4 separate regions of the Homo sapiens genome follow, and all the other regions are linked to region 1. The links come from fine-mapping of genetic effects on gene expression. A gene starts in region 1. Each other region holds a variant in brackets. All regions are shown on one strand. Distances are from middle to middle. Region 1 holds the start of FASTKD1 (FAST kinase domains 1). Region 2 has its middle 25 kb from the start of SSB. Region 3 overlaps PPIG (peptidylprolyl isomerase G). Region 4 overlaps UBR3 (ubiquitin protein ligase E3 component n-recognin 3).

Evidence for each region. PIP is the estimated chance that this variant, and not a neighbour inherited with it, causes the effect.
Region 2: its variant is fine-mapped to the expression of FASTKD1 in blood mononuclear cells (TOPMed, PIP 0.96).
Region 3: its variant is fine-mapped to the expression of FASTKD1 in CD8 T cells (CEDAR, PIP 0.95). The same link has a PIP of 0.9 or more in iPS cells.
Region 4: its variant is fine-mapped to the expression of FASTKD1 in monocytes after LPS (Fairfax 2014, PIP 0.95).

What each region holds. Positions count from the first base shown.
Region 1 is chr2:169,572,304-169,574,803 of GRCh38, reverse strand. FASTKD1 (FAST kinase domains 1) reads left to right here and starts at 939. Exons shown (of 15, transcript NM_024622.6): 1 at 939-1,135. RefSeq lists enhancers at 728-827, 730-1,332, 1,188-1,357.
Region 2 is chr2:169,772,657-169,775,413 of GRCh38, reverse strand. No RefSeq gene overlaps it. Among named protein-coding and RNA genes, the nearest start is that of SSB, 25 kb to the left of the region's middle. The variant A/T (reference allele first, on the strand shown) is at 1,680.
Region 3 is chr2:169,596,746-169,599,502 of GRCh38, reverse strand. The region is part of intron 1 of PPIG (peptidylprolyl isomerase G); the gene reads right to left. Among named protein-coding and RNA genes, the nearest start is that of PPIG, 14 kb to the right of the region's middle. The variant ACAAACAAG/G (reference allele first, on the strand shown) is at 1,640.
Region 4 is chr2:169,921,811-169,924,567 of GRCh38, reverse strand. It overlaps UBR3 (ubiquitin protein ligase E3 component n-recognin 3), which reads right to left. Exons shown (of 39, transcript NM_172070.4): 12 at 574-639; 13 at 395-484. Among named protein-coding and RNA genes, the nearest start is that of UBR3, 96 kb to the right of the region's middle. The variant A/G (reference allele first, on the strand shown) is at 1,293.

The DNA of each region.
Region 1 (2,500 bases):
GTCCACTCAGGGTTAAATGGATTAAGGGCGGTGCAAGATGTGCTTTGTTAAACAGATGGTTGAAGGCAGCATGCTCCTTAAGAGTCATCACCACTCCCTAATCTCAAGTACTCAGGGACACAAACACTGCAGAAGGCCGCAGGGTCCTCTGCCTAGGAAAACCAGAGACCTTTGTTCACTTGTTTATCTGCTGACCTTCCCTCCACTATTGTCCTACGACCCTGCCAAATCCCCCTCTGCGAGAAACACCCAAGAATGATCAATAAAAAAAATAAATAAATAAAATAAAAAAAAGAAAGTTGCACAGCATATTCCAACAAATATCAGTTTGGTACCTTTAGAGCCTTACTTTGTTGTAGTGATTATCAGCTGAAAATTATGTCTGTTGTAACTTTGGTAAGCATTCCACTTTGGTTATTTATTAGTGGTATTTTTTTTTTAAGTGTCAAGTGTCAAATCTTGGGACTATTAAAATACCATGGTAAGTAAAAAAAAAATATGGTCTGAGAACTGGTACCTATCCACGACATAAGTGCAGAAACTGAGAGTATGAGTTTGCATACTTTCAAAGTTACTCGACAGAGTTATTTCGTATATGCTAAAAAATAATAAGAAAAATCTGTACGTGTCTTTTCCATGTTTACATTTTTAAATTTCATTTTCCTAAGTATATTTTTGTGTATATTATAAAAGTAGTAGACTTCCAAGGACTAGGAGAACAACCTTAGATAGTAGAGAATCACCTAAACGACCTATATCTTCTTCAACAGCTTAAGCTGTGTACTGCGCTAGAGCCTCCCTCAATGAGGAACTACAATGCCCAGAATTCCCCCAAAATGCGTGAGCGACGTCCATTTCACCCACCTCGCCGCGACCCACCCTGGGATATGTAGTGCGTGACTTCCGCAGTGCACGCTGCGCCTGCCGGGCATTTTTTCCTGGTTTGGGGGCAAGGTCTCATGGGAAAGGTCATGTCTCTCGAAGAAAGGTTATAAACCCTGAGATATGAGGGTTGGGCGAGACATCCGAGCCTGTTTCGTTCCGTGTTGGGACCAGGAATAACCCTGACTTCTGAGCTTTCATAACCCCAGGATCCTCCAGAAAATTTGCGGCGCGCTGAGGGAAAACCTTGCTGGCAAGTCGGGACTGTGTGGCAGCGGCTATTTTTCTTTTCCCACCCAGCACGTTTTCGGGCTGGGGACATAGGGTTCAGTTGAGATACGGAGGCTTCCTTCGGGATATTGGGTTCTCTGAAGTGCGGATGGACTAGGGCAGGGCTGAGACCCCATTCATTCACTCATTTGTTTAGCTCTCCTTTATGCCCGGCGCAGAAGATACCCCTTAGGGTCCCAAGGCCCTTCCTGTAGTTAAGTTCCTTCCTTAAGGTCATTCAGCTGGGGCAAAGCTGGGGACTCGACACCTTTCTATGCTAACCATTGAGCTGCCTCCACTTTGAGCAGCTCAGTGGATGAATATAGTATCTTGAGGATACCTTTGATTTGTGCAGGGTTTTCTTGTGCAGGTTTGTGACCCAGGTCAGCTTAGGTCAGGATGCTGTACTGCTTGCCACAAAATAGCCTGTACTGTCGCGTCGTTTTTTCTTGTGAACAGACTGTTTGGCATAGCCGTAGAGAGGGGTCTGAGACATGAATTTAGTGATACAGCGTTGATTTGTTTGTGTAATGAAGCTGTTCAAGTGGAAAGAACTGAGTTGTAGTCCCTGCTTCACTAGTACTAGAAGGATTTTTTAAACCTTTTTGAACCTATTTTGCCTTATCTGTAAAATGGAAATAATATCAACCTGGAAGGTTAGCTGAGAGAATTTAATGAGATAATGTGTTTCAAACGTTCTTTGTAAATGGTAACATGTTGCAGAAATATTAGATTATATGACTTTAGTCCCTGCTTTTCTAACCATTACTTCTCAATTATAAATGTAAACATTTATAGCATATTTTTAAAACAAATTATTCTTTTTTCATAATTATCTTTAGTTCTTTTATTGTTTCAGCATGACTTGAAACATTACTTAATTTCTTAGTATTTCTTGATTGGTGCTTTAATTGTGTCGTTCATTGGTTAAAACCTATCCAAGGCCAGTAATGATTAAATTATATGACTTCTTTTATTTATTTATTTTCTAAAGAAAGGAATTATTTGAGCTCTTTAAGGGCACAAGAAAAAGGGGCAAGAAATTATCCTGAAAGCAAATAAACCTGAGACCATACTTCTGAAAAATTAAAAAAAAAAAGTATATATATATGTATGTATAAATATATATGGCTCTGAATTAATGCCTACACTTTTTAGAAACTTTGAAGGTGATTATTTATTTTAAACAATTTTCCTCTTTTTCGAAAAGACAGCTCTGAGTTTGTGGGCTTTTTTTTTCCTTTTATGGTAAATTTGAAAACTTTATGTAAATGTCAGATTTAAAACACTTTTAAAATGGGGTGCAGAAAGAAGCCCCTTTTTCTGGACATTTATTTTTTGATCAAAT
Region 2 (2,757 bases), 200 kb before region 1:
ATTCTGATTTTTTTTCATAAAACTTGTTACCAGCCAGACATGGTGGCTCACGCCTGTAATCCCAACAATTTGGGAGGCTGAGGTGGGCGGAATCACGAGGTCAAGAGATCGAGGCCATCCTGGCCAACATGGTGAAACCCCCTCTCTACTAAAAACACAAAAATTAGCTGTGCATGGTGGTGAGCGCCTGTAGTCCCAGCTATTTGGGAGGCTGAGTTAGGAGAATCACTTGAACCCGGGAGGTGGAGGTTGCAGTGAGCTGAGATAGCACCGCTGCACTCCAGCCTGGGGACAAAGCGAGACTCCATCTCAAAAAAAACAAAAAACAAAAAACAAAAAACAAACTTGTTACCACCTGATATCTTATTATGGGAACATACAAATTTTGTGGGGCCTGAAGTTTTTATAATGGGGGGGCATTTTTTAAAGAAACAAAATATAAAAATTGCAATTAAAAATTAAGTATGAGCTGGGCGCGGTGGCTCACGCCTGTAATCCCAGCACTTTGGGAGGCCGAGACGGGCAGATCACGAGGTCATGAGATCGAGACCATCCTGGCTAACACGGTGAATTAGCCAGGCATGGTAGCAGGCGCCTGTAGTCCCAGCTACTTGGGAGGCTGAGGCAGGAGAATGGCGTGAACCTGGGAGGCGGAGCTTGCAGTGGAGCCGAGATCACGCCACTGTACTCCAGCCTGGGCGAGAGCAAGCCTCCGTCTCAAAAACAAAATAAAAAAATAAAAATAAATAAAAATTAAGTATGAAAGTGAATATTAATGTGAAAATAAATCATAAATTGCTGGAGTCTTGGAGCTTCAGTTCTTCCTTCTAGGATTTATTTAGGCAATTTACTAGAAATGCTTATGTAAAAATGTGTAGTTGTTGCAACCTGGCTTCCACTTGCCACCTAGAACATTCTATGGCCCTCAGCAATTACCAGCCCTCCCTGGGGTATCACAGTAAATCTGACTCTGCATATTAAATATCAATTTGCTTGTTTGTTTATTGTCAGTCTGTATCAATGGAATGTCTTAAGCTTCTTGAGAGCAAAGATTTAACCTTCTATGTTGCTTTATGCCCAGTGCCCACAACAGGAGTAGGCACGGGGGGCATATCATACATGCTTCTTTAATAAATTGTATCTGTCCCCGAAAATCAACTGGGAAAAAATAATCCTTCCTCCTCTCCCATTTTAGCCACTCTGTATTGTCATAGCTCTGTGTTATTGTCTTTTAGTACTATCACTTAAAAAATTAGCTTACTGCTTACTTTTTTTTCTTTTTAAGATAGGGTCTCCTCTGTCACCCAGGCTGGAGTTGTAGTGGCACAATATTGGCTCACTGCAACCTCCACCTCCTGGGTTTAGGCGATCTCATGCCTCAGCCTCCCAAGTAGCTGGGACTACAGGTGTGTGCCACCATGTTTGGATAATTTTTTTGTATTTTTACTAGACATGGGGTTTCACCATGTTGGCCAGGCTGGTCTCGAACTCCTGGCCTCAGGTGATCTGCCTGCCTTGGCCTTCCAAAGTGCTGGGATCACAGGTGTGAGCTACTGCGCCTGGCCTGCTTGTTTACTTGTTATCTGTGTCCCCTACTAGAGTAGGCCATACTAAGAAAAGAGAGTGTCTTGCTCCCATTTTCCCAGAGTTTTTAAAGCAAGGCACAGAGGAGGCTCTCA[A/T]TAAGTATTTTTTTGAGTAAATGAAAATAAGGCAAATAAAAAACTTTTCACGATGAAACTTGCCATGTACTGCAACTCTCCTTGTACCTCTGTTTTTATTCTATTTATCTGAAAGTTTCATTTAGATACTCAATTATATGCTAATTTAATGAAACATAATTAAGTTTTAAAAAAAGTAAAATTATAATAATCACTTCACTTTACACCTTAGCTAAATAAGTACAAATGCATTTTGATTTGACAGAAAGATTGAGTAATTAATTTGTAACCATCTACTAACAAGATTTGAAAGATACAGGTACTTAATAGTACTTTCAGACACAGGATTTCTGCTCTGAATTTGCACTCACCCATGATTTCTGTGACTTTAGGGAGTATCAAATAGAAAATGCTCCTACGTACCAAGTTTTCTTCCCTGGAGGCAAAATAAAATAAATAAACTGACCAATTTCTTATATATTATTTCTGAAATATGCTATGAAGGTATTAGCAGATATTTATATATTTTTCTTTTTCTTGCACAATTTATAGCATACTATACTCACAATTCTGTACCTTTTGTTTTGTGATTCTGTTTTTTTAATATATCTTGGAGCTTACTAATATTTTTGGCTGCATAGTAGTCCATTGTGCAACAGTGTCTTATTTAAATAATCCTCTCTATGGACATTCAGATTGCTCTCAGTCTTTTGGTATTATAAACAGTGCTACAATGAATAACCTTGTACACATGTAACTTCATACATATGTAAGTATGTCTGTAGGATAAACCCGTAGATGTGTGTTTGGATCTTATAGCAATAAATGACACTCCTCATCCTCACCCAAATTCTAAGCCAATTAGGAAATAAGACAAAAGAGGCAGACAGGTGATTAAAATGTCACTTCATTACTGGTGACAGCTGATGTTGAAGCATGTTGCTTACATTTGCAGATAAGAGAGCTTCCCAATTCTGGATCTCTTTCCATTTAATCATAGGCAATGTTCTTCAAACATAGGTCTCCCCATGCAGGTTTTAGGAAGATGATGGGCTGAATGCGGCCTTCCCAGTTTATTCTTTACAAATTTAACAATTAG
Region 3 (2,757 bases), 25 kb before region 1:
AACCATTTAAAATAAAATAGTCCTTGGGTTTTTTTTTAAATAACAGTAAGCACAAACAACTTAAATGTCTAACACAATAGTTAAGTAAATTAGTTTGTGATGGACTGCCTAAGAAAATAAGCTTTTTAAAATAACATGAAAAAATGTGTTAAATGCCACATGAAAAAAGATAATTGTACAGTAGTAAGAATTACTTAAAAAATACCCCCATGAAATGAAATACTATCTATGAGAAATCATAATCTTACATATTAAAATTACAAACGTAACATTTTTTCACCAATTGGATTGACAAAAATAAAAAATGACCTCATTTATTGTTGCTGCTGGTAAAGGGATAAACTGATAGAATTACTTGATTGCCAATTTGACAACAAATATCCATATTACAAATGCATTTAAGACTCTCTGACTCAGTAATTCCACTTCTAGGAATTTACTTTATGTACATCCTTACACATTCGCAAAATAAGATATGTGCAAGGTTATTCAATGTACCATAATTTGTAGTAGTAAAAGGCTGTAAACCTAAATGTCCATAAAGGAGGAACAGGTTATAGAAATATAAACCTGTATTTATATAAATATAAATATTTACCTATATTTACATAAATATATTTACCTGTATTTATATAAATATATTTACCTGTATTTATATACATATAAATATTTACCTGTATTTATATAAATATAAATATTTATAATACTTTGATAAATGTATATATAATTTGATATATAATACAAAATAATTTAATAAATATAAATCAGGTATACCACTGTATACCTGTAGAAAGTACAAAGCTATTAGAAAGAATGAGAAATCTGTTCATTTACTGCTGTCTCCAAGATAGGGAGAACTATTTCCTAAAATCTGTAAATGTTAACTTATTTTGTTAAATGAAAAAGAAAATAAGCCAGGCGCGGTGGCTCATGCCTGTAATCCCAACATTTTGGGAGGCCGCTTTGGGTGGATCACAAGGTCAGGAGATCGAGACCATCCTGGCTAACACGGTGAAACCCCGTCTCCCCTAAAAATACAAAAAAATTAGCCGGGTGTGGTGGCAGGCGCCTGTAGTCCCAGCTACTCAGGAGGCTGAGGCAGGAGAAAGGTGTGAACCCGGGAGGCAGAGCTTGCAGTGGGCCAAGATCGCGCCACTGCACTCCAGCCTGGGCGACAGAGCAAGACTACCTCTCCAAAAAAAAGAAAAAGAAAATAAAAGGCTAGATGCAGTGGCTTACACTTTAGAAGGCTGAGACAGGTGGATTGCTTGAGTCCAGGAGTTTGAGACCAGCCTGGGCAACATGGCAAAACCGTCTCTACAGAAAATATAAAAATTAGCTGGGCATAGTGATGCATGCCTGTAGTCCCAGCTACCTGGGAGGCTGAGGCAGGAGGATCATTTGGGCCCAGGATGCGGAGGTTGCAGTGAGCTGAGATTGTGCCATGGCACTCCAGATTGGGCGACAGAGTGGGACCCTGTATCAAAAAAAAAAAAAAGGTTGCCCAGGCATGGTGGCTCATGCTTATAATCCCAGCACTTAGGAAGGCTGAGGCAGAAGGATTGAAACACCAGGCTGGGAAACATAGGGAGAACTTTGTTTCTATTTCAAACAAACAAACAAACAAACAAACAAACAA[ACAAACAAG/G]CAAGGTACAGAAGTGTGTAGGATATACTGTCTTTGTATATTTTTAAAAGAAGAGAGAGCTGGGCGTGGTGGCTCATGCTTGTAATCCCAGCACTTTGGGAGGTCAAGGCAAGTGGATCACCTGAGATCAGGAGTTTGAGAGCAGCCTGGCCAACATGGCGAAACCATGTCTTTACTAAAAATATAAATAATTAGCTGGATGTGGTGGCGCACGCCTGTAGTCCCAGCTACTCGGGAGGTTGAGGCACAGAATTGCTTGAACTCAGGATGCGGAGGTTGTGGTGAGCCAAAATTGCACCAGTGCACTCCAGCCTGGGTGACAGAGTGAGACTCTGTCTCAAAAAAAAAAAAAAGAAAAGAAAAGGAAAAAAGAAAAACGAGAGAAAAACGAAAGTGGGGCCAGGCATGGTGACGTGCACCTGCAGTCCTAGCTACTCAGGAGGATCAGGTGGGAGGACTCTTTCAGCCGAGGATTTTGAGGCTGCAGTGAGCTATGGTAGCATCACTGCACTCCAGCCTCAGACCATCTCCAAAAACAAAATTAAATTAAATTTTACAAGTATGTATTTGCTTAACAAAAAGGCATCTAGGGAGAGAGAAAATGGGTAACTGGAAAAGAGGGCTAAGATTTTTCACTTTATAACCTCATATTTTCAATTTTATACCACATGAATATATTATCTATTAAAAATTATTATAACATATCCCACTCCTAGGTATACACTCAAAAGAAAGGAAATCATATATCAAGGAGATATCTTCACTCCTATGTTTATTGCAGCACTATTTACAATATCCAAGATTTGGAAGTAACTTAAGTATCTATCAACAGATTACCAGATAAAGAATATGTGGGCTGGGTGTGGTGGCTCCCGCCTGTAATCTCAGCACTTTGGGAGGCGAAGGTGGGCAGATTACCTGAGGTCAGGAGTTCAAGACCACCCTGGCCAACATGGTGAAATCCTGTCTCTACTAAAAACACAAAAGTGAGCTGAGCGTAATGGCGCATGCCTGTAGTCCCAGCTACTCTCAGGAGGCTGAGGCAGGAGAATCGCTTAAACCCGGGAAGCAGAGGTTGCAGTGAGCTGAGATTGCGCCACAACACTCCAG
Region 4 (2,757 bases), 350 kb before region 1:
TTCTTCTCTCCTCTTTCTCCTCTCACTATACAGATAGGGAAACTGAGAATCAAGGAGGTGAATTACCTTAAACCTTGCGGAAAATAAAACAGTGGTAGCACCAAGGCTAGAATCTTTTGGATCTCCTGACTCCCAAAACAGTGCTATATAGTATGTTAAATACCACCCCATAAGCAAATATCATGAAAAGAATTCCTGGAAAAAGTAAAACTAAAAAGTAAATCTCATAAAATGAAAAATACCTAAACATAATCTAGCAAAAATACAATAACAACTTTTTAAAAAAAGTTTTCAAACATCTCAGCTATAATAACAATGAAAGGCATATAAATAAAGGAAGAATCACTTAAACAAGGAATCCACTTCAAAACTTTTTAAATGCCTGAATACATACTTGAATTTGGAGTGGGTGAATCATTAGTTTCATTAACATTTCCTGATCTGGTAAAACAGAATCCAAATCTAGTTCTTGACATTTCACAGCCTAAAAATTACAATAAAAAAGTTACTAATTCAATTCTTATTTCTGAAAATTAAAAAAAAAAGAACAGAATTGTTTAATGACAGTCTTACCTTACTCAAAAACATAGCATAGTAACGATGTAGTGGCAGATGAAAAGTGACTTGGTTAGGTGCTGGCTGGAATAAACAAACAAAATGCACAAGTCAAAGACTATTTTATAGAAATTTTAAGATGGTTGTAAAATGTTTAAACCATACTCTCACCTGGATTTATTCCTATACTTTTAGTTCAAAACTTAACATTTTAGAAGATGCAGATTCCAAAATCACTATAGATAAAATTTTTCCATTTTAAACACTTAAGTATAAGTTTCTTGAAGGCAGAAATTGTATTCTACTCAACTTTGAATCCTCTGAAGCATCCAGTACAGATTAATATTTCCTAAATTCAATTCAGCTAAAGCAAATAATTATTATTAAAACAAGGGATGGAATGGATTTCCAGCTACAGTAGACCATTTGGGACTCTTCAAACGCATGTATACCAAACATCATGACAGTAATAACAGTCACATATAACATTCATTGAACACTTCCTATGTGCCAGTCACCATGCTAAGCACTTTATTCACATTACCACATTTAATCCTCAGAAGAATGCTATGGGGTAGGAGCTACTAATATTCTCATTCTACAAGTAGCAAAATTCAAACTTAGAAAACTTAACTAACTTCCTAAAGTTCAAAAGTAGTGAACTGGGGAGCTAATCTGGACTCCACTGTCATATTCAAAACTGTAAGAAGACTCTGACCACATCCCTAAACAGAGGT[A/G]TAAATGCAGGGCATCGTTAGATTCCTTCACCAGTTAGATAAGATGCTTCCAAACAGTACCAAACGCACCAGCCTCCATAACAAAACTTCATAAAAAATATGTGAATGACCTTAGGCATTCCTGTAAATATTACAAAAACTGTATTTTAAATCTGTGAATCCCATGGATCACAAAATCACTACAGGGCAAAAATACACCACAGCTGTCCTTCTTAAACAAATGAGTTAAGAACTGAAAAGGTATTGTTTGTTTTTAATGCTTTTTAAGTTCTTATTAAATATTCTCTTGTTAAAAATGTTTATCCCGGACATTCAGATAATTATGCTAATGTATATAATTTACATTATAGAGGTTATAAGGAGTCTAAATATGTCACCATCCCTGAAATAATTATTTTTTTCAAAACCAGTAAGATAATAATATCCTCTTCAATATGTAAAGGCTATAAAAATTTGTTCTAATAAATAAAAGTTTGCCCTCCATAAAAAGAAAGGAAAGTCTAACAATGTTCTGTAACATGAATAAACCTTCGGGATATTATGCTAAGTAAAATAAGCCAGTCACAAAAAGACAGTAACTATATGATTCCACCTATATGAGGTTCTTAGAGCAGCCAAATTCGTAGAGATACAAAGTAGAATGGTGGTTGCCAGAAGCTGGGGGAAGAGGAAATGGGGAGTAGCTATTTAATGAGTATAGTTTCAATTTTATGAGATAAAAAAGTTATGGAGATTGGCTGCACGACAATACAAATACACATAACACTACTGAACTATACACTTAAAAATGATTAAGATAGTGAATTTTATGTTTTCTGTGTATTTTACCACAATTAAAAATAAAATTTTAAAAAGTTTGCCCTCCATTACCATAATCGCCTTAGTAACATATTCTACACTAACTAGCTAAGTCAGAATCTCCCTCAATTTCCTTTGAGGCACTAAGCACAGTGGATAAGTGCAGACTCTTTTTTTTTTTTTTTTTTTAAATAGACAGGGTCTCACTCTGTGGCCCAGGGTGGAGTATGGTGGCACGATCACAGTTCGCTGCAACCTCCACCTCCCGGGCTCAAGTCATCCTCCCTCCTCGGCCCCCTGAGCAGCTGGGACTACAGACACACACCACCATGCCTGGCTAATTTCTGTTTTTGGTAGAGACAGGGTTTTTGCCATGTTGCCCAGACTGCTCTCGAACTCCTGGGCTCATGCAATCTGCCCGCCTCAGCCTCCCAAAGGATTGGAATTATAGACGTGAACCACCAGGCCCAGCCTAGGTGCAGACCCTTTTTTTGAGTCTCGCACTGTCCCCCAGACTGGAGTACGGTGGCGCGATCTCAGCTCACTGCAACCTCTGCCTCCCGGGTTCAAGCAATTCTCCTGCCTCAGCCTCCTGAGTAGCTGGGACTACAGGCATGTATTACCACACCGGCTAATTTTTGTATTTTTAGTAGAGACAGGGTTTCAC